Regions from separate parts of the Homo sapiens genome. Here all the other regions are reported to be linked to region 1. Evidence: microRNA targets listed by miRTarBase, many of them from high-throughput screens and not tested one by one. Region 1 holds a microRNA gene; each other region holds the end of a gene's coding sequence.

The links. The annotated mature microRNA hsa-miR-5787 reads GGGCUGGGGCGCGGGGAGGU and lies in region 1 at 2,213-2,232, opposite strand. An mRNA with a match to its seed (bases 2 to 7 or 8) in the 3' UTR can be bound and repressed. Matches are read on the target gene's strand: a 7mer-m8 pairs with bases 2 to 8, a 7mer-A1 pairs with bases 2 to 7 and ends in A, and an 8mer does both.
Region 2: miRTarBase lists MNT as a target of hsa-miR-5787. Seed matches in the 3' UTR shown: 7mer-A1 at 444-450, 8mer at 1,035-1,042, 7mer-m8 at 1,215-1,221 and 7mer-m8 at 2,531-2,537.
Region 3: miRTarBase lists NAA10 as a target of hsa-miR-5787. Seed matches in the 3' UTR shown: 8mer at 1,973-1,980.
Region 4: the mRNA of LEAP2 is a reported target of hsa-miR-5787. Seed matches in the 3' UTR shown: 7mer-m8 at 2,788-2,794.
Region 5: miRTarBase lists PLIN3 as a target of hsa-miR-5787. Seed matches in the 3' UTR shown: 7mer-A1 at 1,446-1,452.
Region 6: miRTarBase lists MMP17 as a target of hsa-miR-5787. The part of its 3' UTR that is shown has no 7-base or 8-base seed match.

Annotation. Positions count from the first base shown.
Region 1 is chr3:50,224,575-50,229,669 of GRCh38, reverse strand. It overlaps MIR5787 (microRNA 5787), which reads right to left and starts at 2,234; the gene lies at 2,180-2,234. It also overlaps a transcript of GNAI2 not described here. RefSeq lists a silencer at 2,022-2,391 and an enhancer at 2,904-3,713.
Region 2 is chr17:2,383,262-2,387,261 of GRCh38, reverse strand. MNT (MAX network transcriptional repressor) reads left to right here. Exons shown (of 6, transcript NM_020310.3): 6 at 1-3,189. The coding sequence ends at 361. Among named protein-coding and RNA genes, the nearest start is that of MNT, 16 kb to the left of the region's middle. RefSeq lists an enhancer at 455-1,279.
Region 3 is chrX:153,926,592-153,931,437 of GRCh38, reverse strand. It overlaps NAA10 (N-alpha-acetyltransferase 10, NatA catalytic subunit), which reads left to right. Exons shown (of 8, transcript NM_003491.4): 7 at 591-675; 8 at 1,215-2,213. The coding sequence ends at 1,451. Among named protein-coding and RNA genes, the nearest start is that of ARHGAP4, 2.8 kb to the right of the region's middle. RefSeq lists silencers at 2,860-3,419, 4,830-4,846.
Region 4 is chr5:132,872,869-132,877,791 of GRCh38, reverse strand. LEAP2 (liver enriched antimicrobial peptide 2) reads right to left here and starts at 4,124. Exons shown (of 3, transcript NM_052971.3): 1 at 4,041-4,124; 2 at 3,703-3,842; 3 at 2,746-3,382. The coding sequence starts at 4,097. The coding sequence ends at 3,346. AFF4 (ALF transcription elongation factor 4) reads left to right here. Exons shown (of 21, transcript NM_014423.4): 21 at 1-2,397.
Region 5 is chr19:4,835,147-4,840,241 of GRCh38, reverse strand. It overlaps PLIN3 (perilipin 3), which reads left to right. Exons shown (of 8, transcript NM_005817.5): 8 at 706-1,901. The coding sequence ends at 1,050. Among named protein-coding and RNA genes, the nearest start is that of TICAM1, 6.0 kb to the right of the region's middle.
Region 6 is chr12:131,850,233-131,855,327 of GRCh38, reverse strand. MMP17 (matrix metallopeptidase 17) reads right to left here. Exons shown (of 10, transcript NM_016155.7): 10 at 3,557-4,403. The coding sequence ends at 4,054. Among named protein-coding and RNA genes, the nearest start is that of MMP17, 24 kb to the right of the region's middle. RefSeq lists an enhancer at 3,712-3,881.

The DNA.
Region 1 (5,095 bases):
AAGTGCAAGGGCCCTGGGTTGGGAAGGAGCTGGATGCTCCCAAACCAGAGAGGAGTCCAGCCGGGCCAGAATAGCGAGAGCAAGAGAAGACTGGTGTGAGAGGGGACTGCCATGAGGCATCATGGAGGAACAAGCCACACAGGGGGTTCCAAAGTCTCCAGGGGATGCTGAGGTAGGGGCACCAACATCTCCAAGCCAGTGATCCACACCTAGCCCTACAAACCCAACTGGTTCTGGCATTCAGGGTGTTCCTGTATGACTGGGGAGGAGCTACCCAAGCCCTGCAGGGAACTCAGGAGCTCTCAGGGCTTTGGGGCCAAGGCCTAAACTTAACCTCCCTCCTTTTCTTTGTCCTTGAAGAGTTCATGGTACAACCTGCCACTGTGCCTGTTGCATAGGCAGTCTCCAAAGGCCACCTCCCCTGGGAAGCCCAGGGTCCTTGGGGGGCCTGGGAAATGATAATCAATTCTATTCCCAGGAGCTACTGCTTTGTTCATGTTATTGCCTAGTCCTCCTTGCCATGCTTTCCAAAGGCTGGGGCTGGTAGCCTCTCCCGTGACTCGTTAGGGCTGTCATTAGCACTGCTTCCTGGAATTTAATTTAATGAAGGAGCAAAAACAGCCCTAATGAAGGTGATGCAACAGCAAACAGCCAAGCAAGGTGCACCTTGCCAGCTGGGCTCAGGGGCTTCCTGTAGATTGTGACTAGGAGCAAGGGAGTAATAGGGGAGGAGGGACCTGTTGCGGGAGGGAAGCTGGTCACTGAGTTCTGGACGCACAAGCATCGCTCTGCCTGTACCGTATGGAGCAAATACTGCGATCAAGGCCAAGCAGACAGAGTTAGGGAAGTGGGCCTTGTCAGGAGTGACTTCAGGCTGTTGGAGAAAAAGCTTTTGAAAAGCTATCAGCCAGTGCAAAGGCCCTAATGTGAGGGCCAGCATGGCATGCCATGCCAACAGGACAGGCTGTGGGCTAGTACCAGGGGGCAGGGGTCAGCAGGGGCCAGATCATCCCGGCCATGGGGCAAGAAAGTTTAAATTGCATTCCAAGTATGAAGGAAACAACTGGAGGGTGTTGAAGGCAGAATGACATCATCTGAATTTTTTTTTTTTTTTTTTTTGGAGACGGAGTCTTGCTCTGTCACCCAGGCTTGAGTGCAGTGGCGCGATCTTGGCTCACTGCAGCCTGTCTCCCAGGCTCAAGCGATTCCCCTGCCTCAGCCTCTGAGTAGCTGGGATTACAAGGCGCGCCCCCACGCCCAGCTAATTTTTTTGTATTTTTGGTAGAGACGGGGTTTTGCCATGTTGGCCAGGCTGGTCTCAAACTCCTGGCCTCAGGTGATCCGCCCACCTCGGCCTCCCAGAGTGCTAGGATTACAGGCGTGAGCTACCGTGCACCGTGCCCGGCCAACATGATCTGATTTTTAAAGTTCCTTCTGGTTGCTATGAGTAGTAGAACCTGAGGATAAGAGAGATGGGAGGATAGGAGGTGGGCACCATTCGAGGGAAATGGAGTGAAGCCTGTGGAGACAGGGCTGTCCCGTCTCCGGGGAGAAGAGAGCTGGTGAGGGGGCGGGGAGCAATTATAACGGGAGTGAGTTTTTGTTTCCTCCAGCAGGTTTGGGCGGGCTGGTCCCCATTCAGCCTTCCCTCCAAATGGGCGTGGCTCAGACACCTAAAGATCGGTCTAAAGGGGCTCCCAATGTCCCCGTATCTGCTTTCCCGCCTTTGTGCACCTCTCTACCTCTAGGAAGCCTTCCTTGCCCTGTCCTGGGTCTTGGCCAGCGGTGGGCTCCCCAGGGACCTCACCAGGACGGCATTTTGCGAGGTAAAAAGCCAGGAGGCTCAGCAGTGGACCGAGAGCTGCGCAGGGTGCAACCTTGCAGGGTGCTACCTGCCCTTGGCCCTGCCCACCGCAGCCCCTCCCTAATTCTTATTTTCCCCCTTGTCCACTCCCAGTGCAACCTCCTAGTTCTTCACCTCCCCCAGGTTCTCTCACCCACGCCCCGCCCAAGGCGTCCTCCCCCGATTCTGGCCTCTCCTGCAGAGCCGAAGCCGGAAGCGGCCTCGGGGTGCGCTGCACCGCCTCTTCCGGGGCCTCTCTAGGCCGGAGCGCGGGATTTCGGTGGCCGGGAGAGGCCGGAACGGCTTCGCGGGGCAGCGGCGCCTCCTGGCGGGCCTGGGGTGCGGCGCGGGAGCCGAGGCCGACCTAGCACCTCCCCGCGCCCCAGCCCCCGCCTCGCGGCCCCCACTCACGGTGGCCCCCGCCTTGCCTGCTCTCCTGTCTCGCTCTGCCTCCGGGCCTGGCCCCCGCCTCCGCCGACCTGCCACTCCTTGGCCGTCGAGGCCCGGTCTCCGCAGAGCTGCAGCCGTCACGCGTCCTCTTGCAACTAGCCCTCTGTGGCACCCCATCCCCCTTGCCCCGCGCGGGGCCCCACCTCGCCAGGGTCTCCTCCGCGATAGCCGCCATCGGCTTACCCTCAGAACGTCCCCAGTGACACCCGCCTTTCTGCTTCGTCCAGCCTAGCGTCTTCACACCCTCCGTCATGAGACGCTCCCTCCTTCTCGCGCTTCCACTTCACAGCAGAGATTAGACGGTGATGTGGGTGATTCTCCCGCTGGGCACCTCGCCTGCTTCCTGAGGGCGGAGTAGCTCCGCATCGCCCATGCCAGCCTAGGGCCGCTGCGCCGTGGGGGCTCGGATGACTTGCTGAGTTTGATTTCAGAGTCATCGGGAGGATAGAGAGGAACTGGGTAAAATTTGCTCTCAGAGGCTCACGCCTGTCATCCCAGCACTCTGGGAGGCCAAGGCGGGCGGATCACGAGGTCAGGAGATCGAGACCATCCTGGCTAACACGGTGAAACCCCGTCTCTATTAAAAATACAAAAAATTAGCCGGGCGCGGTAGCGGGCGCCTGTAGTCCCAGCTACTCGGGAGGCTGAGGCAGGAGAATGGCGTGAACCCGGGAGGCGGAGCTTGCAGTGAGCCGAGATCGCGCCACTGCACTCCGGCCTGGGCGAAAGAGTGAGACTCAGTCTCAAAAAAAAAAAAAAAAATTTCTCTCAGAACACATAGTCAATGGCGGACATAGTCAATGGCGGGTCTGGGGGTCCGGCCTCTTCCTCTACTCCGGGCTTCCCCCAAGGTCAGGCAGTCCGTGGGGGGTCTGGCTGGCTCCCTGCAGTACACACCTGCGCCGATGCCCAGCGTTGAGGCCCTACCCATCCCGGGGGACCTTTCCCCTCCCGCCTCCCGCCCTTCTGTCGGCTTTCTTCCCACGGATCTGCCAGGAAGCCTTCCAGGACTGTCCTGGAGCATCAAGGCTCGACCGCACGGCCATGGGTACCGACCATCCCAGCCACACGGCTGGGCAACGTGTGGTGGGTCACCGCGCAGCCAGACTCCGGCTGGTGACCGCCAGGGGTCAGCAGAGGCCTCCTTTTGCATAGCTTGGCGGATTAGGTCGCTGGCTAATCCTGTGTGTGTAGCCAGGCGGTTTGTAGACTTGTGTGGTTGGAAAGTAGTTTTATGCTTTCAGATTTTTCCAGGGCTGCTCTTCTTTCTAAGCAACCTTCAGTCAATTATTACTGCTCCGCGTTGTTGGAAAGTCAGTTGCTGGGTGACTTTAAACTAGGGTCCAGGCAGACATCTTTTTTCTTTTCTTTTTTTTTTGGAGACAGGGTCTTGCTCTGTAGCCCAGGCTGGAATGCAATGGCGAACTCGGCTCACTGCAACCTCCGCCTCCCGGGTTGAAGCGATTCTCTGGAGGTGCCTCAGCCTCCAGAGTAGCTGGGACTACAGGTGTGTGCCACCATGACCGGCTAATTTTTGTATTTTTAGTAGAGACAGGGTTTTGCCATGTTGCCAGGCTGGTCTTGAACTCCTGACCTTAAGTGAATCCCAAAGTGCTGGGACTACAGGCATGAGCCACCACACCTGGCCTAGGCAGACATCTGAATTGTCCCCTGGGTCTCTCCACGGCTCCTTGCCATCCTTGCCTGCGTCTTGGACCCGCTGTGTCCCTAGCCACCAGCACTTGACCAGGCAGGTCAGTGGCCAAGCTGCACACTCCCTGATGTCCAGACCCCCACTATCCAATCTCTGTCTACTGTTTTCCAGCTCAGTTTCCAGCACCCCCATCCTGGAAGTCTTTCACTGAGCTCAAACCTACCCTCCTACCAGCTGCTTCCATTCTCTCACCTCAATACCTTCTTCTTTCCAGTCTTTCTTCCTCCCACCCACAGACGGAGTCTCACTCTGTTGCCCAGGCTGGATTGCAGTGGTGTGATCTCGGTTCACTGCAGCCTCTGCCTCTCAGGTTTAAGCAATTCTGCTTCAGCCTCCCGAGTAGCTGGGATTACAGGTGTGCGCCATCACACCTGGCTAATTTTTGTATTTTTAGTAGAGACGGGGTTTCACCATGTTGGCCAGGCTGATCTCAAACTCCTGACCTCATGATCCACCCGCCTCGGCCTCCCAAAGTGCTGGAATTACAGGCGTGAGCCACCGTGCCCGGCCAACTTTCCAGTCTTTCTTAAAAGCCACTGTTGGCTCTGCCCCTCTCACTTCACACAAGTTGTTTACACTGGCTCTTTCCAGTTCTACCTCACTTTCTCCTCTGCCCACTCCAGGCAGGCCTGTCCCTCCCTCACAAAAGTGCCCTGGTCAGGGTCCTTAGGGATCCACAGGTGTCCGAATTCAGTGGTCCATCCTCTACCCTCAACTCCTTGGCAGCATCTGACACTTACCTGGCTCCAGGTGCCCATGCTCTCCCAGTTTTCCTCTCACCTCCTGGCTACTCCCGCCCAGCTCCTTTGCTGGTTCTGCCTCATCTTCCAGGGCTCAGTGCTTACTGCCGCCCTCCTCTGTCTGAACTTAGCTTCTTCCCATCCCATGGCTTTAAACACCACTTGCTTTGCTTCCCAGATCCAAAGCTTCATCACTGGCCACTCTACTGAACTCAACGCATACACCCAGCAGTTGACTCGGCACCTGCACTTTGATGTCCAGTCAATGTTTTTTTTTTTTTTTTTTTTAGACGGAGTCTCACTCTGTCACCCAGGCTGGAGTGCAATGGTGTGGTCTCGGCTCACTGC
Region 2 (4,000 bases), not on the chromosome of region 1:
CGGCAAGCACATCGCCCACATCGCCCCCTCGGCCCCCAGCCCTGCGGTGCAACTGGCGCCTGCCACACCCCCCATTGGGCACATCACTGTGCACCCTGCCACCCTCAACCATGTGGCCCACCTGGGCTCCCAGCTGCCCTTGTACCCGCAGCCCGTGGCAGTGAGCCACATCGCCCACACCCTCTCGCACCAGCAAGTCAACGGCACGGCCGGCCTGGGGCCCCCGGCTACTGTCATGGCAAAGCCGGCCGTGGGGGCTCAGGTGGTGCACCACCCCCAGCTGGTGGGCCAGACCGTGCTCAACCCTGTGACCATGGTCACCATGCCCTCCTTCCCAGTCAGCACACTCAAGCTGGCTTGAGGACGAGGCCACTCAGAGGCCCCCAGTGGGGACAGGGAGGGGGACCTGTCCCCCACTCTCTCACCCACCAGCTCCACACATTCCAGCCAGGCCCAGGCCAGCCCCCCCACCCACCCCCAGGCCTCCTAGGGGAAGGGGGTGCAAAGACTCTGAGCCAAGGGAGGGAAGGGCCACCCTGCTGCACTAGGACTTGGTAAGATGACTCTGAGAAAATGCGAGACTCTGATGGAATGTGCCACCTGTCCGGCCCAGTGCCAGCTCCAGTGCCGCTCCTGCTTCCCCTCCCTACCCTCGGAAATCAGTGCGATGTGGACGTCACGCTCCCTGACTTCTCCCCCGCCCTGCCCCGCCTTCGTGTGCTGCTGCTGCTATTGCTGTCTGGTGAGGTGGCCCAGGCCCCCGGCTTTCCTCCGGAGCCTCATGTTCTCTTCCCAGGCCTTTGGAGGGGAAATGGGGAAAGCAGAACTGAAGCCACTTGGCCCAGAAAGCTGCGGATTGGGGTGATAAGGGGCCTTGCTCTGAGCACAGGTGACAGATCATAGGAAGTGGCTGGTCTGGAGTCCCACCCGGACAGGTGGGGCCTCAGCCTGGGGCTCTCTGACCCGGTTGCAGTCACTGTGATTCGTTACCGTAGATACTACTTAAAATGATTCTCTACCAACAATAAACCAAACCCAGCCACTGCCAAGCTTCCTGTGCCCTCACCCCAATCCCTGCCACTGGGCTCTGGACCTCAGGAGGGCAGGCTGAGGTGGGGAAGGAGGGACTTGGCTGTCCTTCCCCTTCCCCGTCCCCTGCAGCCTGGGTCTGGATGGGAGGAGAGCCACTGGGCCCCTGTCCCCAGTCCCCAGTCCCCAGCCCTGGGCTTGGCTCTTGGCTTCCAGAAGGCAGCAAAGAGGGGCGCTGTCCTGCGTTCAGCCCCTGATCTCTGACCTCTGCTGAGTGCTGGGCACTGCTCCAAGGGACAGGTGGGCCTGGCGGCCTGTGGGTTTGGGTGCCTCCTGCAGTTTGGGAGACATGGACCAGCATCTGGTCTTGTTTCCAGGAGCATAGAAGCCACATCGTTGAGACATCAGGAAGGTAAAAACCCAGCGGCTTAGCCAAGCCCTAAGCCTGTCCCCAGACCAACCCTGGGACCTATACAGAACAGAGGGCCAGAGCTAGGGCTGCTGCTTCTGCTCCAGCCCCTTTGCCTCTGTCCTCCCATCCCCTCAACACCCTGCTTCTCCCGGGGACGCTTTTGAGTGGGCCCTGCCCGGGGAGCTGCAGAGCAGCAGCACCTTTCTCTGAGAAGAGGTCCTTGGTTGGGTCAAGGACAGGGCTGAGCGTGGAAGGGGGAGGAGTCAGGGGCTCTGTGTTAGGATGCGGCTTTCTCTGCCTCTGGGCAGCCTGCTTTGGCCTTTCCTTGTATGTGGGTGTTTATTACAAGTGGCTTTGTGTCAGACACGCTCGGCTCCCCACCTGGACACACACTCACCAGTGGCCTTTCAGTGTAGCGGGAGGAAGCCGGTGTCCCTGGATGTGAAGCTCACACTGATGGGCTGGGGCAGGGGCCTGGGCCGGCGAGGGGGCCGGGGGGAGGGGACAGAGCTGAGGATTTCCTGGAGTGCCCTGCAGGCACAGAGGAGGTCAGCAAAGGTCTTGAATAGATTTTCTCTGGAAATAAAGAATCCTTAGATGCCTAAAAATTCCCTTCCTGTTCCCTCCTGGTCCTGGACACCTCCCAGGGGACTGTTCCTTATTTCTCTCTCCTGGTGTGGGTAAAGGGACAGTTACAAACCAGGTCACCATCCTCAGAGGCTGAGCCCTGTACCCACCCCAGCACAGCCACCTCCGCCAGACCCCGTGGCTCTGGGAGAGCCAGCTTTGCTATTCCCATTGTGACAGCGATGGCAGGCCTGACCCACGGGGCAGTTAGAGCAGCCTCGTGGAGCTCGCCCCTCCCCTCAGCCTGCCCACCTCTCCCTGCATCCTGAGGCCAGTGGCCCCCGGGCCTGCACAGATACCTCATCATCCACCCGCTGCCCCTCCCCGTCCCTGTCCCCCAGCATCGGGGGCCTGCAAATCTAGTGCCGAATGACTATGTCCAGATTGGTGACGATGGGTGTTGCTGTTTTTCTTGTCGTTTGTGAACGCTGTGATGCTGTGTGCCCAAGTGGGCAGTCACCACCCAGCCCTTCCTTGGGCGTCTCCCCCAGAGTGCTGTCGGGACCACATCTGTCCTCACCCTGTGGGACCGCCTGGCCCTCCCTCCCTAGCCCTTCCAGCCTGGGACACACACACACACACACACACACACACACGCACGCACACGCACACATCTTACCTCTCATGCGTGTTTTACCTTTTGATGTTCAGAGTGGCTCACTGGCTGGGAGTCCTTACCTCGGGGAGAGGGGGAGGTTGGTTCCTTGGGGGGCCAAAGAAGGCAGGGAATGCCTGGAGGGTAACTGGGGGGCCACCATGACCCCTTCTCTCTCCAGAAACAGCTGCTTCTCCCCCCATCCCAGGGTCCCACCCCCAACCCCCAGAGGTGGCCCTTGTTTACAGTGAGGACTCGGCCACTGTGTCTCTGTTTCCTGAAATATAAACTGTAGCGACCCCAGACTGTAGAGATTTTTATGTGTTTGGATACATCTGCTGTGTGGAAAAAAAAAAAAACTACAAAAACCCTAATTTTGTACATACTGTATTTTTACTATTGAACTGTATTCTAGTGGCTGTTCATGCTCCAAGACTTTAGTTACCGAGACATGAATACTATCCATGTAATAAGCACTTGCCTGGAATAAAATATAAAACTGAAATAAACCTGCACTGAAACCTGAGATGGAGCTGCCAGCCTGCAGCATCTGGGTCATTTTATTGCAAAAGGAGGCTGAGGCCTGTAGGGAAGCATGTGGCAGGAGCGGTGAGATCACCTGTCTCGACCCTGTCTGCCCAGCATAGTCCTCAAGCGGCTCTGACCCGGTGCCTCCGCCGCTCTGAAAATGGCAGTTCTGGTCGGTCTGAAACTTTTGCAAAGCTTCGTATTTCCTCAGACCATTTTACAAGCATTATCTTGTTTCATCTTTCAACAGCCAAGTGAAGTAAATAAGCCAGACTTAGCCCCATTTTGGCAGATAAGGAAACAGGATTGAGGTGGCCCAGTGACTTGTTGAGGCCACACGGCTAGCTGGAGACTTCGTTGGAGCTGCAGTCAGACCTCTGAACTGGGTACAGAGTTCTTACCCAGCATCTGCCACCCTTGTGGCACCTGGGGCCAGTCCTAGACTCGGATCCAATAAAAAAGGTACAGGGGAGTTGCCCCAGGGATTGGGCACAGAGGGTGAGAGCTTCCTGAGGGGCTGCTCTGGGGGTGCAGTTACAACAGGTCAGCCGGGGAGTCCATAAAGCTGTCCTCTAAGGGAAAGGAACAAGGGGAAGAAGAGGCTGGAGGTCAGGGGCAAAGAGCCGTGTTCTCAGCTGGGCTGGAAGCCCCTTGTCCCTGTGGCTGTGTCTTCTCTCCCTGGGCAGGCTGTCATGGGAGGAGGTGGTGTGGGAAGTGAGGTCAGGGAGCCACTAGCTAGGCCTTGCTGGAGACCAGGCTGGGCAAGGGGGCCCAGCTTCTCATTTCCACCCTGACAGTACCTGACTGAC
Region 3 (4,846 bases), not on the chromosome of region 1:
GAAGGGCGGTGGCCTCTGGGCTGGATGCTGGCAAGAGGGATCTGTGACCCAGATGACGATGTCTGGTGGGAATTGCTTTATAGCTAAGTCAGCAATCCTCATGTCTTAGGCCTGGCAGGGCCAGCCTAGGCCATTGAGTCCAGCTCCCCTTCCAGGGACATGGCCACGCGAGTCTGCACACACACCTGCCCAGTGTAGTCACGGCCCCAGAGCTGCTCAGGCAGGGCTCACCGTCTTTCCTGGGTTCTGATGGCTGTTGTGAGGCAGCTCAGTAAGGGACAGGGCGCAGGGCAGGGAGGGAAGGGGAAGGCTGAATTCAGGGCTTCAGCTCACAAGAAACCGCAGAAATGGATCCTTAGTATCCAGGCTAAGGACACAGAACGGGGGCAGGACGGGTGGGGCGGGCCGCTGTGTCCTGGAGCCTTTGCTGGAGAGAACAGAGGGCAGGTCACACTGGACTTGTTGTCTCAGGATGGAGCCTTCAGGGAGAAAACATGGCACCTTGCTCCAGTAGCCACGATACCAGGAGTGGAGGAGGGTGTCCCCGGGATACAGGTCTTCCTCCTTGCTCTCTAACCCTCTGCCCCCAGGATCAGTGAAGTGGAGCCCAAATACTATGCAGATGGGGAGGACGCCTATGCCATGAAGCGGGACCTCACTCAGATGGCCGACGAGGTAAGCGCCTGCATGAAGCCAAGCAAGGCGAGCGGGGGCGGCACTCAGGAGCCCCAAGACAGTGGCTGCAGGCGAGACCGACTTTGGATGCCAGCTCTTGTGGCTACGTTGCCAGGAGTCACGACCTCAGTTTCCTAGGCTGGGCTTTAGAGGAGGCCATCTGCCTAGCAGCCTGGAGGGTGATGGGAGAGGCAGAGGGAGGAGGCTTTTAGAAGGGAAGTGGGGAGGTCTAGGGACCAGTGGGTGGCCTGCCTGCTCAAAGGTAGTTCTGAGTCAGGGTTCTGCCCAAGGCTCATCGGGTGGCAGGGCTGGTCAAGGGGCAGCGCTCTGTCGTGGGGGCCTCCATGGTAGTCGGTAAGCCCAGGTAGCGGTGGACTGGGGCTCCAGCCAGGTGTCCCCACTCAGTCCCGCGTGTCCTGCCTAGCCCTGCTGCCTCACTATGCCCCTCTCCTCAGCCAGCGACAGGGCCAGGCTCCCTTTGTCTGGAAACTTAGGCCCTGTCTCTTTGCCCCCGCTTCTCCCTGGGTTCCTGGTGGCAGCTGAGGCGGCACCTGGAGCTGAAAGAGAAGGGCAGGCACGTGGTGCTGGGTGCCATCGAGAACAAGGTGGAGAGCAAAGGCAATTCACCTCCGAGCTCAGGAGAGGCCTGTCGCGAGGAGAAGGGCCTGGCTGCCGAGGATAGTGGTGGGGACAGCAAGGACCTCAGCGAGGTCAGCGAGACCACAGAGAGCACAGATGTCAAGGACAGCTCAGAGGCCTCCGACTCAGCCTCCTAGAGCCTGCCCCATCCCCTCCTCACCCCACGAGCTTTCACAATAAATTCGCTCCGTGGCACTGGGGAACTTTGTGTGTGAGCGCGCGCACATTTAGAGGGTGTGTTTCTCCAGGTCCTCTGGTGGGGATGTGAGCCTTGGCCTTTTGACCCAGAGCATCCTGCCAGGCCCGAGTACAAGGAAAGAGCTTTGGAGGTGGGACTCCCTAGTCTCATGACCTTCAGCAGCTGTGGCCCCGGGGAAGGAGGCCCTGGACTTATGGGAGAGACCCTGCCTTGGAGGTCTGCTTGGCCACGCTGAATGTGTTTTGTGGCACAAGCCGGGGCTGCTCAGGCTCAAAGCTCAACAGCAGGGCTCCCACTCTTGGTGGCCTTCAGTTCTCTTCCCACCTTCACCTTCAGACTTTCTCTCCCTAATCACACCTGCTTCGGGCTACAGCAGCTCCCCAGCATACCCGTGGGCTCCAGATGTGGACATCCAACTGCTCATTGGGCTTATCTACAAATGTCCTGTCTGAGTAATGACCCAGCCAGATGCCCCATCAACAGTCCTTGAGTCCTCCCTCCCCTGCCACCCTAATGGTCAGTGAGTCCATGATACCTCTTGAGTCTACTCCCTAACCTGAGTTTGCATTTGAAAATAATTTATTTTTAGTACAATTCCCCGCGTTTCCCCATTGACATTTTGTATTAGTTGGTGTATTTGTTATTGTTGATGCGCCAATACTGATAAGTTATTGTAAACTACAGCCCATGGTTTACAGTAGGTTTCCTGTCTGTGTTGTACAGTTTCTATGGGGTTACACAAATGCATAAAGCCATGTATTCCCTCATTAACAATTTCATGCAAAATACAAAACTGGGCGGCTGTTGGGTGCGGTGGCTCATGCCTGTAATCACAGCACTTTGGGAGGCCAAGGTGGGCGGGATCACTTGAGCTCAGGAGTTGGAGACCAGCCTGGGCAGCATGGCGAAACCCCATCTTTACTAAAAATAGAAAACTTACCCGGGTGTGGTGGTGCATGCCTGTAATCCCAGCTACTCGGGAGGCTGAAGCAGGAGGATCGCTTGAGCCCGGGAGGTGGAGGTTGCTGTGGGCCCTGATCATGCCACCACACTCCAGGGACAGAGACCCGTCTCAAAAAAAAAAAATATATATATACATATATATATACATATACACATATATATCAAAATCCTGTTTTTCATGGAGTCACCCTAACCGTAACGCTCGTTTCTGTGTCTTTCCTCCTTTCCCTTCCCTCCCCTCCGGCTGCAAAGCCATCATTTACTGTCCCTAGTCCCTGGGCGGGCCCTGTATTCCTGAGCCCTCTCTGTGTCCTGCTACTGCAGGTGGCACACTGCTCCTCCGCCGGGTTGAAAACTCGCCACACAGGCCTGGAGCTCGGTTCTCTTTGGCTGGCGCCTCGCACGTGACCAGCAGGCAGCCGGCAGCTGTGGAAGCGGAGCCCAGAGCGCGGCAGGGCGGGGCCGGGGCCGGAAAGGCGCGTCTGCGCACGCCCACAGCTCTCCGCTTCCCGGCTCGGGCGAGGCTGTGTTGATTGGCTTAAGACGTGGGCTTCCCTTTGTATGGGCCGGAGGCGGAGTCCTGTCCCGCCCCGCGCCTGGCGGCAGTGTCTTCCGGTTCGCAAGCCCGCGGCGAGGTTCGTTCCCAGGCTCTGATTGGTCCGGCGGCACTGGGCTCGCGCGCAGGGTGCGGGGGAAGGGCGGGCTTGCGCACTGCGTCGGCCGCGCCCCGGCACCGGTGGAAGGGAGGTGTCCCAGGCTCCCACGGCGCCCGCGGCGCCCTCCTTCCGCCCCGGCCAGGCCCATGGGACCCGGCCCGCCCTCTGCCGTCCGTCCCCGGCGGGCCCGATGCCTGTCGGCCGCTGAGCCTCCGTCCCCATGCGGGCAGGTCCGCGCCTTCTGCGGGCTGCCTGGCTTTTGGATGCTTTGAAGGGGAACAATGGAGCGAAGGATAGACGGAGCAGCAGGGGGCAGTTGCGTTCAGGGCCTTAAATGCCAAACAAGTGCCCTAAAAGCCAGGGCCCAACACTCAGGCCCTAAAGTACGGGCTGAATGGGGCATCCTAGGAATAGCTCTGGAGTGAAAAAAGGAGTGAAGAGAGCGTTTGAAGGCACCGGCTGAGGCCTTTCCTGCCTGCCTGAGCCCTGTGGCTGGCTCTGCTGGGTGGAGGGACCTTTGGGGACCAGTCAGGGCTCGGATGGAGGGGCAAGATGTGTTGGGGCCAGCTAGTGAGAGGCGGGGCTCCCTGGTTCCCCTTGGCCTGAGGCAGCGGTGGGACGTGTGAGTCTCCCGACCAGGAGCAGGTTGGAGTGTGGGTGCGGCTGTACGCGCTGTGGGCAGGGGCGCAGGCTCTCTAGTCTCGCTGGAGGACTCGAACATCGGTACTTCCGAGACCAGCTGCTGGAAGTCCAGGTCCTGGGTCTGGCTAGCTCCCAGGCCTTGAAGCCCCAGGTCCTGCAGACACACACGACGACGTGTTCGAGAAGGGCCTTGGTACTGGGAGAAGGGGGCGGGGAGCTGAGGGAGTGTTTTTTTCCTTCTGGGCAAGAGAATTAATTGCTCACAGTTGAAAGGCAGGAAGTACCCGCACAGCCTCCCCTCCCCAGATCTGCAGGTCAAGGTCATGTGTGCCCGCATTTGCACAGAGCCTGACTCTGACATCCGTGCACACACACGCCTAGTACCCCTGCACTAGTGCCCCCACGCCCGCCTTCGGAACACACGCCTGGTGCCCAAGTGCCTTGCCTCTCTCCCCACATCTATACCCCAGGGATTTCCCTCCCACCAAATTGAAGCCAGTTGTCTGCTTGGCTTGTCAACCGCCTCCCGCCTCCCGCCTTCCCGATTTCCCGGAGAAAAGCTGCTGCCCTGTGGTAGAGGGTGGAGGAAAGCCCCACCACCCCTGGATGAGGGGGGCCCCAAGACTTGCCCCCAGGGTAGCTAAGACCTCACTCCGAGGGGGCTGCCCCCCTCAGGCCTATGACGGGCAGGTGCAGCTGCAGGGGAAGGGAGGCAGAGCAGTCTCTTCCGGCAGCAGGAAGTGGTAACCGCCTATGGGGAAATTGTGGGGCTGAGCAGAAGGGGAACCGGAGCTGAACTCTCCTCCCCTACCAAGGGGGCCTGGAGGGAACGGCAGCCAGCTGCTGAGGTTCTGCTCTCTGGTGCTGACCTTCCTTCCCCCTCCCCTCTGAACTTCCCACCCCAGCTCTCAAGGCTCCCTGGGGCTCCCTGGGCCTCTCTGGGGGCTGACTTGGGAAGGGAGGACCCCATCGGATGTCTGGGGGAAGGAGGCAACCCAGGGGGAGTCCAGAGCCTGGGGCAGCAATGGTGTTCATGGCCACTGGTACAGTGGGCCAGCGGCCCCGCTGTGAA
Region 4 (4,923 bases), not on the chromosome of region 1:
TTTGTATTTAATGACAGAAACGTTGGTACATTTCTTCATGAATGAGCTTGCATTCTGAAGCAAGAGCCTACAAAAGGCACTTGTTATAAATGAAAGTTCTGGCTCTAGAGGCCAGTACTCTGGAGTTTCAGAGCAGCCAGTGATTGTTCCAGTCAGTGATGCCTAGTTATATAGAGGAGGAGTACACTGTGCACTCTTCTAGGTGTAAGGGTATGCAACTTTGGATCTTAAAATTCTGTACACATACACACTTTATATATATGTATGTATGTATGAAAACATGAAATTAGTTTGTCAAATATGTGTGTGTTTAGTATTTTAGCTTAGTGCAACTATTTCCACATTATTTATTAAATTGATCTAAGACACTTTCTTGTTGACACCTTGAATATTAATGTTCAAGGGTGCAATGTGTATTCCTTTAGATTGTTAAAGCTTAATTACTATGATTTGTAGTAAATTAACTTTTAAAATGTATTTGAGCCCTTCTGTAGTGTCGTAGGGCTCTTACAGGGTGGGAAAGATTTTAATTTTCCAGTTGCTAATTGAACAGTATGGCCTCATTATATATTTTGATTTATAGGAGTTTGTGTCTGGGTCCCAGGAACATCTACTGGGGATGACTGTTAGGCAGCTTGTGATGATGTTTTTTAAAAAACCTAAGTAACTTGGGGAGACAGAGCATTTCAAACCCATATAGACACCTATCATACCTGTATATCCCCTAATACATGGAACATAAATTTCATTTCAGCTTTATGCATTAATGTATTGAAGAGGCAGGCTTTTTTTCCAGTAATAATACTGTACATCTAAGGTTGCTATTCAGTAAAACTAATAGAAGAGATAATTATTGAATACCTTGGAATATGTAGTGAGAAGAGGCCAAATTTTTCATGTTTGTGAGCATGTCTTTCAGATACTCGCTAATGGAGAAATTCACTTTAGACCTCTAGACCCCAAAACCAAGTTAGCAAGTGACAAAAAGTAAATTATTAATAGTCTGTAAAGTGGATGCTGGTCTTACAAAGCTCCTATTCACATGAACCCTATGGTTAATTAGAAAGAACTTGCTGTCTCCAGAAAAGGGAATGGAAATAATAACTATGTATCTTCTTTTCATGTAATTTGGTCACAGAATAAGGTATTCAAGTTAAGTCTAATCCAAGTCTTAGAGATCTTTAAGTATCCTAAAATAGCAGCCTAAGTAGTCATCATGTAAAGAAGTTGACTTTCAGGAATGTCAGCATTGACCTCTCCTTGCCACTGTTACTCAGCTAAACATAACTTGCCATTCTTAAAAATAAAAAAGCTCCCACCCAGAAACTCTAGTGATACTCAGTTTTGACCTCTTACTGCTTCCATGTGGGACTTCTTTTCAGCTTTTAACCATTGGAATTTTCTACCTGCTATGTTCCTCTCTGGAAAATATCAATTTGGAAATGCTGCCTTTCAAATCAATGCCATGATCATCCATATTGTTGAGTTTGTTGTTGGTGTTCCAGAAGTGTCCCCATTTTACAACTTTATGCACACACCTGGCAAATCATTAACATGAGCATTCAACAGTACTGGGATGGGTGGGGTGGGGGTAGGGGGCTCACCAACAGAACTGGCCAGTTGACATTGCCTGAAAAGGCACCACCTTTAAGGGCCAGTTGTGGGGTTGGTAAGCACAGTTATGAAAATTTCTATCTAGCCTCCGTTTTGAATGGTTTTAAGAAATTTTGTATATGGAGGATGGAAATGCTTATATATTTATTGAAAATCCTTTTATTTGAAATTAAAATTATTTGGTATATAATTGTTTGATATTTGGGGAGGGTTTTGGAGGGGAGATAATGTCACTGATAAATTAAAAGCCTGTTGATTTTGCAGAAAGGTACTGTTAGTGACTGATAAGGATGCCTTTGTTTTGTACATGAACCAAATCTTTGTTTTACATTTCTTTTATCCAAAATATTTAGGCATCTGACATTTTCAACCAGAATTTCAATTATATACTGTGATTTTTATTTGTTGCAATACATTACAATTTCAGAGGTACTTTGGGGCTCAAAAGCTAGGATTTCTAAGTCAGTATGTGCATTTCACACGATAAAGCTGTTAATGGTGAGCAAAGTATTATATACTAACTAGATTTTTCCACATCTGTATAGTATATTATATGTATTTTGTGGTATTGAGAGTATAGAAAGTTTAGAGTGTCAAACATGCGTTTAATGTGTATTTTTAAACAAATTTATGGCAATTAAAATATTTGGAGACAAGGGTATCACATTTCAATTTGTAAAGATCTTTTTAACTCTACTGTGTCATTAAGATGCTTTGTACAATGCCAAACCATAGTTGGAGAAACTAAGTTTAATAAATATCAAATAGATTTTCTGTATTAAAGTTACTGAACACTGTACTCTTTATATTTCTTCAACTCTGAGCCCTTTTCATGCAATTCCTGTTTTGTGTCTTAAGGTCCGTTACTACTCTTTAAAAGTCTGTTCCCACCAGCTGAGGTCTCATTTTCTGATTACAGAAATTCTGAACTTGCTGGCCATGGGTCCTTGTGCATATGTCAAAATTCACCTTGTCCCAACAGAAATCTTAAATCTCTTTTGGTGCTTTTGGTGGCTTGGGCTTTCATTGCTTTATTAAACTAGATTTTTCTCTCTGTTCTGCCTTATCTTCAGACAGCCATAGACAAACCTGGGTGCTTCATTAGATGGCAAGTGCTTGACCATCTTTTTTTTTTTTTTTTTTTTTTGAGACAGAGTCTCTCTATGTCACCCAGGCTGGGGTGCAGTGGCATGATCTTGGCTCACTGCAACCTCCACCTCCCAGGTTCAAGTGATTCTCCTGCCTCAGCCTCCCAAGCTTGACCACCTTTGACACCTCCCTGAAGAGTATGGAGTGAAGGGATCCAGGGCCACAGCTTAGGAACTTGCTGAAGTTGATTACGTAGCTATTGATTATGTAGCTCTCACTACACTTTCCAGATTGAGAAGTTAACACATTATTGGGCAATGCTGTTTTTTTCTTTAGTATACAAAATGAATCCTTCTTTCCCTCAAAAGCTTGAATTCCAGACTGCTAAAATTTCAATTTGAGACATTTAATAGTATCCATAGAAAAATAAACTCTAAATTGACAAGTTTAGTTATGCTTATCCATATATCAACATTCTAAGAAGAAATGGAGACCAATTTAAAGCGTACATCTGCCTTTAAATATTAAAAATACAAGATTGCTTCACTTGGGTGTCTCCAGCCAAAATGCAGTTAATCAATATTCCATAGAACGGAGCATTGTCGGAGGTGACTGCTGTCCTTTCTTTCCCTGGTATGTACATCATTCCTGGGCCACACTTAAGGAACAGCGTCTTTTTCTAGGGGAAAAGAAAGGGTAGTTTTTTAAGACTGGGTCTAGGAATGACCAGGGCCACCTATGCTGCATTTCCTTCCTCTTTGCTTGATCTGTCCAGTCTCAGGAAAGACTGAAGAATGGAAAGGCACCACTCTTTCATGGTACCCACATAGAGCTGTTCTTGGCTCCTAACTCCTAAGGGATTTTCCATGGAGCTCCCAGTCTCAGTCTAGAACTCCTCCATCCCAGCTTTATTCTTAGGTTCATGTGTCCCCTTGTCACTCCTCTGCCCAGCTTCCCAGGGCTCTCTGGCCCAACCCTGCTCCCAGGTTCAGGGAGTACCTGCATAGCCTTGTGATACACTCAGAATCATCCCGGCAGGAGGCTCCAATAGGCCTGAGGGAAACCCCTCTCCAAAATGGGGTCATTCTCCGTGGCCTTCTCTTTGCCGAACTCACTTCTGGTATTGGGGAGCCATCTATCTGTAAGGGCAAAGACATTCAGATATGAAAGTGTTGACACCCTGCTGCACACCTTGGAAGAGTGATCATTCCATTCCGCAGATGCTGTAGACTCAGAACAGAGGAACCATTCCTCAGGACTGAATCTAGCTTTCAAGTTCCACCACCACTATCATCTCCACACTCCACACACACACATAAGTATCCTTCCCTCCTTACCTGGCCCAACAGCAACAGGAAGATCATGAGGACTGCACAAAGTTTGAGGTGCCACATCTTGACAGGGGGAGGATGTTGGAGCCTGAAAGCCAGGGACAGTTCCTACTTCCTTTTATAGACTGACATCAACTCTTGCATTGTTACTGGGTGAGATGGGGGCAAAGTTTATATTTGTAATCAGAATCAATTTAATAAGTTAATGTCTACCGGAGGAATGTGCTCAAGGGCCACCTTTCAGGCACGTTGTATTTACTGATCCCTCATCTGGACTTTGAGTGATTGTGTTGCTGGCATGGACCCTTTCGCCCATTTTACCAAAAGTCAGCACTGCCCTTCCTTCCCTTTGAAAGCCACGTGAAACCATTGAGGGAGGTCAGGCAACTAGCCACATTTCTATTCCAAAATAGCTCAGTGAGATCACTCCCATAGAATTCCAATAATGAAGTCTTCAGAAATAATGTTGGCCCCTTTCAGCCTTGTCTAGGAAAGAAGCACTGATCTATTGTGTACAGCCAATTGGATAAGGCCCTTATCTCCTTTCTGTGGGAGGATGCTTCAGCAAGGCCTACAGTTCCCCAGATCGTCCACTTGCTTAGATGGACTGTCACCCTAATCTGCACCTCTTTATCTCACTAGTAAAATGAAGACCCAGCTGTGGAAAGTTCAAAGTCTGGCCTCCTGCCCTCTCAGGGGAATGGCTGGATGTGAGACTTATTTGGACCACAGGTGAATTGAATAATTATAGGTTTCTTTTTGTTTTTAAGCACATGTAGATGAGGAGGTAACAAGATCTCCTAAATCAGAGGGAGAGCTTGTGTAGTGACTGTATTAAAAGCCTTGAATTATGGGCTTTCTTCCCAGTAGTTGAGTGGGGCCTTTCCTT
Region 5 (5,095 bases), not on the chromosome of region 1:
GTAATCTCAGTACTTTGGGAGGCCAAGGAGGGCCGATCACTTGAGGTAGAGTTCAAGACCAGCCTGGCCAACATGGTGAAACCCCATCTGTACTAAAAATGCAAAAGTTAGACGGGCGTGGTGGCACGCGCCTGTAGTCCTAGCTATTCGGGAGGCTGAGGTAGGAGAATCGCTTGAACCTGGGAGGCGGAGGTTGCAGTGAGCCAAAATCATGCCACTGCACGCCAACCTGGGCAACAGAGCAAGACTCTATCTCAAAAAAAAAAAAAAAAAAAAGGGCCGGGCACGGTGGCTCACGCTTGTAATCCCAGCATTTTGGGAGGCCAAGGCAGGCGGATCACGAGGTCAGGAGATCAAGACCATCCTGGCTAACACGGTGAAACCCCGTCTCTACTAAAAATACAAAAAATTAGCCTGGCGTGGTGGTGGGCGCCTGTAGTCCCAGCTACTCGGGAGGCTGAGGCAGGAGAATGGCGCGAACCTGAGAGGCGGAGCTTGCAGTGAGTTGAGATTGTGCCACTGCACTCCAGCCTGGGCGACAGGGCGAGACTCCGTCTCAAAAAAAAAAAAAAAAGTTTCGCCTATGGAAAGCGTTTGCCCCAAGGTCAGTGGTAGAACCCCTCTTCCCCTCTTTCCCTGGCTTCAGCTCCGATCGCCTTTCCTGAAACAAATGGTCCTGATTGGTGTCCCCATCTCCCTTCTCAGCAGGTCGAGTCCCGGGCGCTCACCATGTTCCGGGACATTGCCCAGCAACTGCAGGCCACCTGTACCTCCCTGGGGTCCAGCATTCAGGGCCTCCCCACCAATGTGAAGGACCAGGTGCAGCAGGCCCGCCGCCAGGTGGAGGACCTCCAGGCCACGTTTTCCAGCATCCACTCCTTCCAGGACCTGTCCAGCAGCATTCTGGCCCAGAGCCGTGAGCGTGTCGCCAGCGCCCGCGAGGCCCTGGACCACATGGTGGAATATGTGGCCCAGAACACACCTGTCACGTGGCTCGTGGGACCCTTTGCCCCTGGAATCACTGAGAAAGCCCCGGAGGAGAAGAAGTAGGGGGAGAGGAGAGGACTCAGCGGGCCCCGTCTCTATAATGCAGCTGTGCTCTGGAGTCCTCAACCCGGGGCTCATTTCAAACTTATTTTCTAGCCACTCCTCCCAGCTCTTCTGTGCTGTCCACTTGGGAAGCTAAGGCTCTCAAAACGGGCATCACCCAGTTGACCCATCTCTCAGCCTCTCTGAGCTTGGAAGAAGCCTGTTCTGAGCCTCACCCTATCAGTCAGTAGAGAGAGATGTCCAGAAAAAATATCTTTCAGGAAAGTTCTCCCCTGCAGAATTTTTTTTCCTTGTTAAATATCAGGAATATAGGCCGGGTGCGGTGGCTCACACCTGTAATCCCAGCACTTTGGGAGGCTGAGGCGGGCGGAACACCTGAGGTCAGGTGTTCGAGACCAGCCAGGCCAACATGGTGAAACCCCGTCTCTACTAAAAATACAAAAAAAAATGAGCCGGGCATGGTAGCAGGTGTCTGTTATCCCAGTTAGGAGGCTGAGGCAAGAGAATCTCTTGAACCTGAGAGGCGGAGGTTGCAGTGAGCCAAGATCGCGCCATTGCACTCCAGCCTGGGGGACAAGAGTGAGACTTAGTCTCAAAAAAAAAAAAAAAGAAAAAAAAATCAGGGATATAGTTCATATCCCACTTCTTTGTTTACACCGATGTCCCTGAATATCAGCCTGTAGCTAATGGACTTGGGATTTCTGGTCTAAGTGGGCCTCCTGGGGATGGGGTGGTACACTGAGCTTCTGAGCCTCATTGTAGAGTAGAAAGGTACTGGGGCCTGTGTGGTAAGCCTTGTTGAAATGCTCTGGTATTCAGTATTGCCTTAATAAACTTCACCCACAACTGCATACAGGCCATGTGTGTACGTGTGTGTGTCTTCATCTGTCCCTGCTGCTAGAACAGAAATATCTTAGGCAGGGTAATTTATTTATTCATTTATTTATTTTGTAGAGACGGGGTCTTGCTATGTTGCCCAGGCTGATCTTGAACTCCTGAGCTCAAGCGTTCCTCTCACCACGTCCTCCCAAAGTGCCTGGCCAGGCTGGGTAATTTATGAGCAACAGAAATTGATTTCTCACAGTTCCGGAGGCGGGGAAGTCCAAGATCAAGACACTGGCAGGCCTGGCACAGTGGCTCACGCCTGTAATCCCAGCACTTTGGGAGGCCGAGGTGGGAGGATCACTTGAGGCCAGGAGTTTGAGACTGGCCTGGGCAACATAGCAAGACCCCATCTCTACACAAATTTTTTTTTTTTAAGTTAGCCAGGCATGGTAAGGTGGGAGGGTCACTTGAGCCCAGGAGTTTGAGACTGCAGTGAGCCAAGATCGCACTACTGCACTCCAGCCTGGGCAACAGAGCAAGATACCATCTCGGAAAAAAATCCAAGTGACAATCTACAGTGTTTCTCTACGGTAGCTACAGAGAAGGGGAACTTCAGGGACTTCTCCCAGGGACATGGAGAAGATACATTCTCAGTCTTACTAAATACTGCTGGACTGTTGCCCAAATCATTGTCAGTCTTTTCACTCCCACCCTAAGTCCTGAGAGGGTTCATTTCCCCCATCACCAACCACATGTTACTTTCTCTTTGTTAATCCATATTCAAGTTGAATTCATATGCACCCAAGTATATGAATCTTAAAGGGACAGTTCAATGAATGTTACATAGGAATCCACTCCCTATAACCAACAGCCACAGGGATTACTGGTGCGTGCCCCACCATGCCCGGCTAATTTTTGAATTTTACTAGAGACGGGGTTTTGCCATATTGGCCAGGCTGGCTTTGAACTCCTGACCTCAAGTGATCTGCCCGCCTCGGCCTCCCAAAGTGCTGGATTACAGGCGTGAGCCACTATGCCAGCCTTTTTTTTTTTTTTTTTCGCTCTTTTTTGAGACAGAGTTGTACTCTGTTGCCCAGGCTGGGGTGCAGTGGTACTATCTCAGCTCACCGCAACCTCCACCTCCCAGGTTCGAGTGGTTTTCCCGCCTCAGCCTCCCGAGTAGCTGGGATTACAGGCGTGCACCACCACGCCCGGCTAAGGCTGGAGTACAGTGGCACGATCTCGGCTCACCGCAAGCTCCACCTCCTGGGTTCACGCCATTCTCCTGCCTCAGCCTCCCGAGTAGCCGGGACTACAGGTGCCTGCCACTACAACCGGCTAATTTTTTGTATTTTTAGTAGAGACAGGGTTTCACCGTGTTAGCCAGGATGTAATTTTGTATTTTTAGTAGAGATGGGGTTTCACCATGTTAGCCAGGCTGGTCTCAAACTCCTGACCTCAAGTGATCTGCCCACCTCGGCCTCCCAAAGTACTGAGGTTACAGGTGTGAGCCACCACATCTGGCCCCACCTCATCCTCTTGAGTATCTGGGAACTACAGGCGTGCACCACCACACTCAGCTAAATTATACACACACACACACACACACACACACACACACACAGATGTGGGTCTTGCTATGTTGCCTAGGCTGGTCTCAAACTCCTGGGCTCAAGCGACCTCCCACTCAACCTCCCAAAGCACTGGGATTACAGGTGAGAGTCACTGCACCTGGCTCTCACCCGATCTTTTTCCCAATCCCATCAGATAGATGCTATTATCTCCAGGGAAAATGAGGTGTAATCCAGAGAGCCCACCCTCAGCCCCACCTCAGCTACTAATAGCTGAGTAGTAATTTGAACTCAGGCCAGGCATGGTGCCTCACGCCTGTAATCTCAGCACTTTGGGAGGCCAAGGTGGGCAGGTCACTTGAGGTCAGGAGTTCGAGACCAGGCTGGCCAACATGGTGAAATCCCCCTCTCTATTAAAAATACAAAAATTAGCTGGGTGTGGTGGCACACACCTGTAATCCCAGCTACTGGGGAGTCTGAGGCACAAGAATCACTTAGCCCAGGATGCAAAGGTTGCAGTGAACCAAGATCACGCCACTGCACTCCAGCCTGGGCAACAGAGCGAGACTCTGTCTCAAAAAAAAAAAAAAAATTGGACTCAAAGAGTCAAGTTCTCTCCACGGTGCTTATAACCACCACATTTTAAGGTAGCAATGCCTGTTTTGGAATATCATACATGACACATATGTTGACTTGTGAAAGTGTCAAAGATATATTGACAATGGAATACAGTAAATTTTTTTTTTTTTGAGACGGAGTCTCGCTCTGTAGCCCAGGCTGGAGTGCAGTGGCGCGATCTCAGCTCACTGCAAGCCGCACCACCTCACAGGTTCACACCATTCTCCTGCCTCAGCCTCCTGAGTAACTGGGACTTCAGGCACCTGCCACCATGCCCGGCTAATTTTTTGTACTTTTAGTAGAGACGGGGTTTCACCGCTTTAGCCAGGATGGTTTCGATCTCCTGACACTGTGATCCGCCCGCCTCGGCCTCCCAAAGTGCTGGGATTATAGGCGTGAACCACCACGCCCAGCCGAAAGTATTTATTGTCTGGTCCTTTACAACAAACAGTTTGCTGAACTCTGGCCTATGCGAATTAAAAAGGAAAATCAGATCGAAGAATATTCAGTATCATGATCACGGATCTGTGGATATGTGTGCAAAAGTGGAAAACAGAGGCCGGGCATGGTGGCTCATGCCTGTAATCCCAGCACTTTGGGAGGCTGAGGCAGGCAGATCACTTGAGGCCAGGAGTTCGAGACCAGCCTGGCCAACATGGTGAAACCCCATCTCTACTAAAAATACAAAAATTAGCTGGGCGTGGTGGCGCACAGCTGTAATCCCAGCTATTCAGGAGGCTGAAGTAGGAGAATCGCTTGAACCCAGGAGGAGGAGGTTGCAGTGAGCCAAGATCGTGCCACTGCACTCCAGCCTGGGCGACAGAGCGAGACTCTGACTCCAAAAAGAAAAAAAAAAAAGTGGAAAACAGAATGGATGGGCTTGTGGGTGGAGGCTTCTAGGGGAGGTGGTGGAGAGGGAAAGTAAAAAAAAAACTTGGACTTTTACTGGAATATTATCTTTCTTTCTTTTTTTTTTTTATATTTTTTCTTTGAGATAGGGTTTCTCTCTGTTGCCCAGGCTGGAGTGCAGT
Region 6 (5,095 bases), not on the chromosome of region 1:
TTTTTAAGTTTTTAGTAGAGATGGGGTCTTGCTGTGTTGCCCAGGCTGGTCTTGAACTCCTGGGCTCAAGCGATCCTCCTACTTTGGCCTCCAAAAGTGCTGGAATTACAGGCATAAGCCACCGTGCCCGGCCACCAGTCACATTTTGAAACCATGACCGCTAGTGTGATGGTGTTAGGAGGGGGCCTTTGGCAGGCGATTTGGGTTAGATGAGGTCGTGAGGGCGGAGCCCCCACAATGAGATTGGTGCCCTGGTAGGGGGTGAAGGGACCAGCACTTTCTCTCTCGGGCTTGTGAGGACACAGTGAGAAGGTGCTGGCTTTGAACCAGGAAGCGGGCCTCTAAGAACCTGACCCTGCCGGCATCCTGACCTCAGACTCCTGCAGATTGGTGGGAAAGCAAATGCCTGTGTGGAAGCCGCACAGTCTATAGCAGCCTGTCACGGCAAGCTGAGCTAAGACACCGTGCCTCAGTTTCCCTCCCTGTAACACGGCAGCTGGAGAGGGTGTGTCCTGGCCTCAGAGGTCACCCATGTGGAAGCCGCATGGTCTACAGCAGCCTGTCACGGCAAGCTGAGCTAAGACACCGTGCCTCAGTTTCCCTTCCTGTATCATGGGAGCTGGAGAGGGTGTGTCCTGGCCTCGGAGGTCTCCCATGCAGAGGCGTTGTATAGCACCCATGGGGCTGTGTGTTTTTGGTCAAAAGCCTGGGTCACGCTAAGGGCAGCCAGTGCCTTGGCCCGGCCGTGTGGCTCAAGAGAGACCCTGGGCCTCCAGGCTGACCTCCCTGGGGTGGAAGGAAGAAGGGAAGAGGTCCTTGCCCCTCACTGGGGTGGCGTGGGTCCTCTGACCTCCTTCGGAGGGTTTTGACTGTGGCTGTGGGCTGGCGATGCCCTGCCTCCTGGGCCTGGGGGCACAGCTTCTCCAAGTTGGGCCAGCACAGCCTGAGGTATAAGCAGTGACTCTGAAAATCCAGAACGTCACGTGAAGTCTCCAGGTGTTTAGATGGTGACTCAGGCGAAGATGGAAAACTGCCTGCTGAAGACACAGAACCGAGGTCCCATCACGAGGAAGGTGCAGGCGGACAGGCCGGGGGCATGGACCACAGAAGGACGGGCCGGCAGCCCTCATAGGTGCGAGGTCACAGGGGTCGGGGAAGGCCCGGGAGCTGTGCCGGGCCAAAGAAGGCTGCCCTGGGTGAGGTCTGTCCCTGCAGCATCCTCTGATCTGAGATCCACTGGCTGCGTGTCTTTCCCAACTCTGACCTTGGGAGGACACCTGCGTTCCAGGAGACACAGAAGCGAGCTCAGGGTGGTCAGCGCCTCCCAAAGGATGCAGAGGACTCTCATGCTGCGGGTGCAGCTTTCTATGAACATGAGATCCTTTCCACAAAACAACACGCCCTGCCCGCGTGTTCCTCATCCGAGACGCGCAGGACCAGAAAAGTGTTTTGGAGCTCAGATTGTTTGGAGTTTGGACACTATATTTGCATTATACTTACAGGTTGAGCATTTTTCTCTGCTTTTCTTTTTTCAAATACTGCCACTTGGCCAGGTGTGTTGGCTCATGCCTGTAATCCTAGCCTCACCTCAGGGAGGCTGAGGCGGGTGGATCACCTGAGGTCAGGAGTTCGAGACCAGCCTGACCAACATGCTGAAACCCTGTCTTTACTAAAAATACAAAAATTAGCCAGGCGTGGTGGTGCCTGCCTGTAATCCCAGCTACTCGGGAGGCTGAGGCAGGAGAATCACTTGAATCTGGGTGGCGGAGGTTGCAGTGAGCTGAGATCTCACCACTGCACTCCAGCCTGGGCGACAGGCTCTGTCTCAAAAAAAAAAAAAAAAAAAAAAAAAGTGAAATCCCAAATGTTCTGTGTGCACCCCGAGCCCATCAGTGCTCAAAAGGTCTTGGGTTTTGGGGATTTCCGACTTTGAATGTGGGGTCAGGGTAGCCTCAGCTGCATGTGCATATCAAAAGGTGGGGGCTCATGAAATGCGTCATGGGCTGGCGGGGCTCCAGGCCCTGCCCCAGGACCCAGCACGGCCACCCCACTGCCAGAGGGAGGTGGGCTGCAGCATGGAGAGGCAAGTTCAGAGCAGCCCCCCTGCCCCGCCTACGGTTCACCTCTTCACCAGAGATAGGACCGGCAGAAGAGGCTTATGACGGAGAGTTTGGACTTCAAAACCGCAGTGAGCCCTGCCAACGTGAGAGCCCGACTCAGCAGACAAGGCCCACAGCCGGCTTTGCACTGGGGCACGACCCAGGACGTGGGGACCACGGGGCTGGGCCAGCTGCACGGGGGAATTCACCCCACAGGCTGCTGGGCAACAAAGCGTGATGAGGAAACACCACTTGGTGCAGGGCAGAGCCAGTGTCCCCGACAGACAGGAGGGAGGTCGGTCTTTCCACAGACTGGTCTGACAGGCAGGGACTCCTCCTGCTCCAGGGAGCAGATGGTGAACAGGCGGGGGACAGAGGACACGGCTGGACTCCATGAGGATGTGGCCTCTCTTCACGGGGAGGTGGCCCGGCTCCATGAGGCCTGGCCTGGGGCCTGCCTGCCCGGCCCTGGCAGCCTCATCCTGGGATGGGTGCCATCCCTGGGATGGGACAAGGGGGCTGTGGGCTTTGGCTCCTGGGTGCCAGGAAGCCTCATCTGCACCCTGGGTGGCCCCAGCCGCTCCCTATGCTGGGCCTGTGGTCAGGAACTTCCTGCTATGTGGGAGTGAATCCCCCACAGTCCAACGGCCACCTCCTCATCCTCACTGAGTCACGTTTGAGGGGGCACCCGGGCCCTCCACAGCCCAGGGCAGATGCTGGTGAGCCAGAGCCTGAGGCCCCGAACCTGTGGCCCGGGGTGCGTCTGTGCCGCAGAGACCAGAGGACTGTGCACCAGCGGGAGGACTGGGCCCTGCAGAGTGGCATCGGCTGCACCCTCTGAACAAGAGGGTACTGCAGGACAGACGCGTCACTCGCCGGCCAGAGTGGGGGCAGGCTGAGGGACTCCGCTGTGGATCTGGAGGCTGGGAGCAAAGGGAGCAAGTGACAGAGTGGCTGGAGCTAGAATCAGCCCCTTGCAGGGAGCACCCTCCCTCCCTCTTGCGCAGGGAGCACCTACCCTCCCTCTTGGGCGCACCCAGGTCCCGGTGCTCGGCCGGGCATCATGGTCTAGTGCTGCGGGGCAGACAGCGTCCCAAGTGGCTCACCCAACAACTGATGCCTTTCCTCGGGCACCTCCCACACTCAGATCTCACTGGGCCAGCTGGCGCCCCGCCCGCCCGTGATGCCCCTGCCTGTAGCACTGAGGCTCATCCCCCGCTGGGCCTCAACTCTCCCATCTGTGACAGGGGCGTGGGGACTCCTCGGGGCACGAGGACTGGAAGAGACAGCGCGGGACGGGCTGATGAACAAGGAGGAATGCGACTGCCGAGACCTCCTGGGAAGCCCCCACCCCAAGTGCAGGTGCGTGGGCCCCTGGTCAGGGTCAAGCCCCTTGAGGCCCGAGGGTACCCACTCCCATGGCCCTGGAGCACCAGGGAGCCCAGCCGAGCCGCTAGAAAGCAGGGAGAGGTCATGTTGGTCTGGAACGCGTCACAGGGGGGACGTGCCGCGGCACCATGTGGGGGGCTCGTCTGTGGGGAGGGCTGCCCCACTGGGGACCTGGGGACGGAGGCCCTGTGGGCCGGCGGGAGCACCAGGCAGCAGTGTGGGTGGGGTTGGTGGCGCCGGCACAGAGAGGGGTGGGCCCCCAGCCCGAGATGCTCCCTCCAGGGCCGGAGGAGGCTGGCGGCGGTGCGGCCTGACTGGGCACCCTTCTGGAGCGGCCACCCCTCGGCTCGTCAGTCAACACAGTCCCTCACTAGGGGACAGCTCCGTCCTTGCCACCTGAGCCTGCCCAGCCCTGGCGGACAGTGCCCTCTGCTGGCCTTCCGGTGCCAGGGTGGCCCGTCCTCATCCCGCGCCAGCACCTCCCCCAGGGACTCCGGCACAGTCCTTGCCCTCTGTGGCCAGGCTGTCCCACCGCCTCTGTCCTCTCATGGGCTCGCGCTGTGTGTCATAGCGTCAGGGCCTGGGCCGCTGTCCACAGGGCGCCTGGTGACAGTGGCGGCAGCAGCAGCAGCATGGTGGCAGCCACCAGTGGGCCTGGGGCCCCCGGGGGAGAGGATGCCCCAGAGGTGCATGAGCAGACCTCGTAACCGTCCTCCGAGCGGCTCTGGTCATGTTGTCCTGGAGGGGCGCGGGGCCCCTCTGCCGCGTCCACGCCCGCAGCCACAGATCCATCGGCCTGTGAGTCTCCACACACCAGCCAGTCCCGGGCCGTGGACTGTGGGTACCCGGGTGCCACCTCCAGCTCGCCATCCAGCACTTTCCAGTACTCCTGGCCACGGAAGAAGTAGGAGGCACCTGAGAAGAGGAGGGAGAGCTGAGCTCAGGGGAGGGCTGCAGCAGGAGGGGCTCGAGCCGGACAGCGAGGAGGGAGCGTTGGGCTCAGGGAGGGCTGCAGCGGAAGGGGCTCGAGTCGGGCCAGACAGCAGGGGGCTTGCACAAGACTGCAGTGGGGGGTCAGACCAGACGGCTGGTGGGGGGCGGCTCGTGCTAGATGGCAGGGGGTGCCCAGATAATATCTGAGATGGGGTCAGCATCTGCTCAGCTGTGGGCAGCTCTGCAGGCATGGTCACAGGCCTGGGAAGCTCCAGAGGAGCCTGCTGGGGCAGGGGATGGACCAGGAGACCCTCAGAGTCTCTTTCCCTTACTGGATATTTATTGAGGGCCCACTCTGTGCAGGGCTGTTCCAGGTGACAAGGATGCAGCGTTGAAAACAAAACAGAGGATGCTGCCGTCCCTGGAGCTGACCCTGTGGGGAGGTTTCTTCTACACTGTGGGACGTGGCAGGGGTGATGCCCAGGAGGGCGTTTGGCAGGGCTGGGGCCGGCGAGGGAGGGGCTGTGTGGACATCTCAGGAAAGTGTGCCCAGACGAGGCATGGCCAGTGCCAAGGCCCTGGGGCAGGAGCGTGGCTGGGGGAGCAGCAGGGGCGAGGGAGTGCTGAGGGCGGGGAGAACAAGGGCAGCTCGTGGGCCAGGCCTTCGGGGAGCG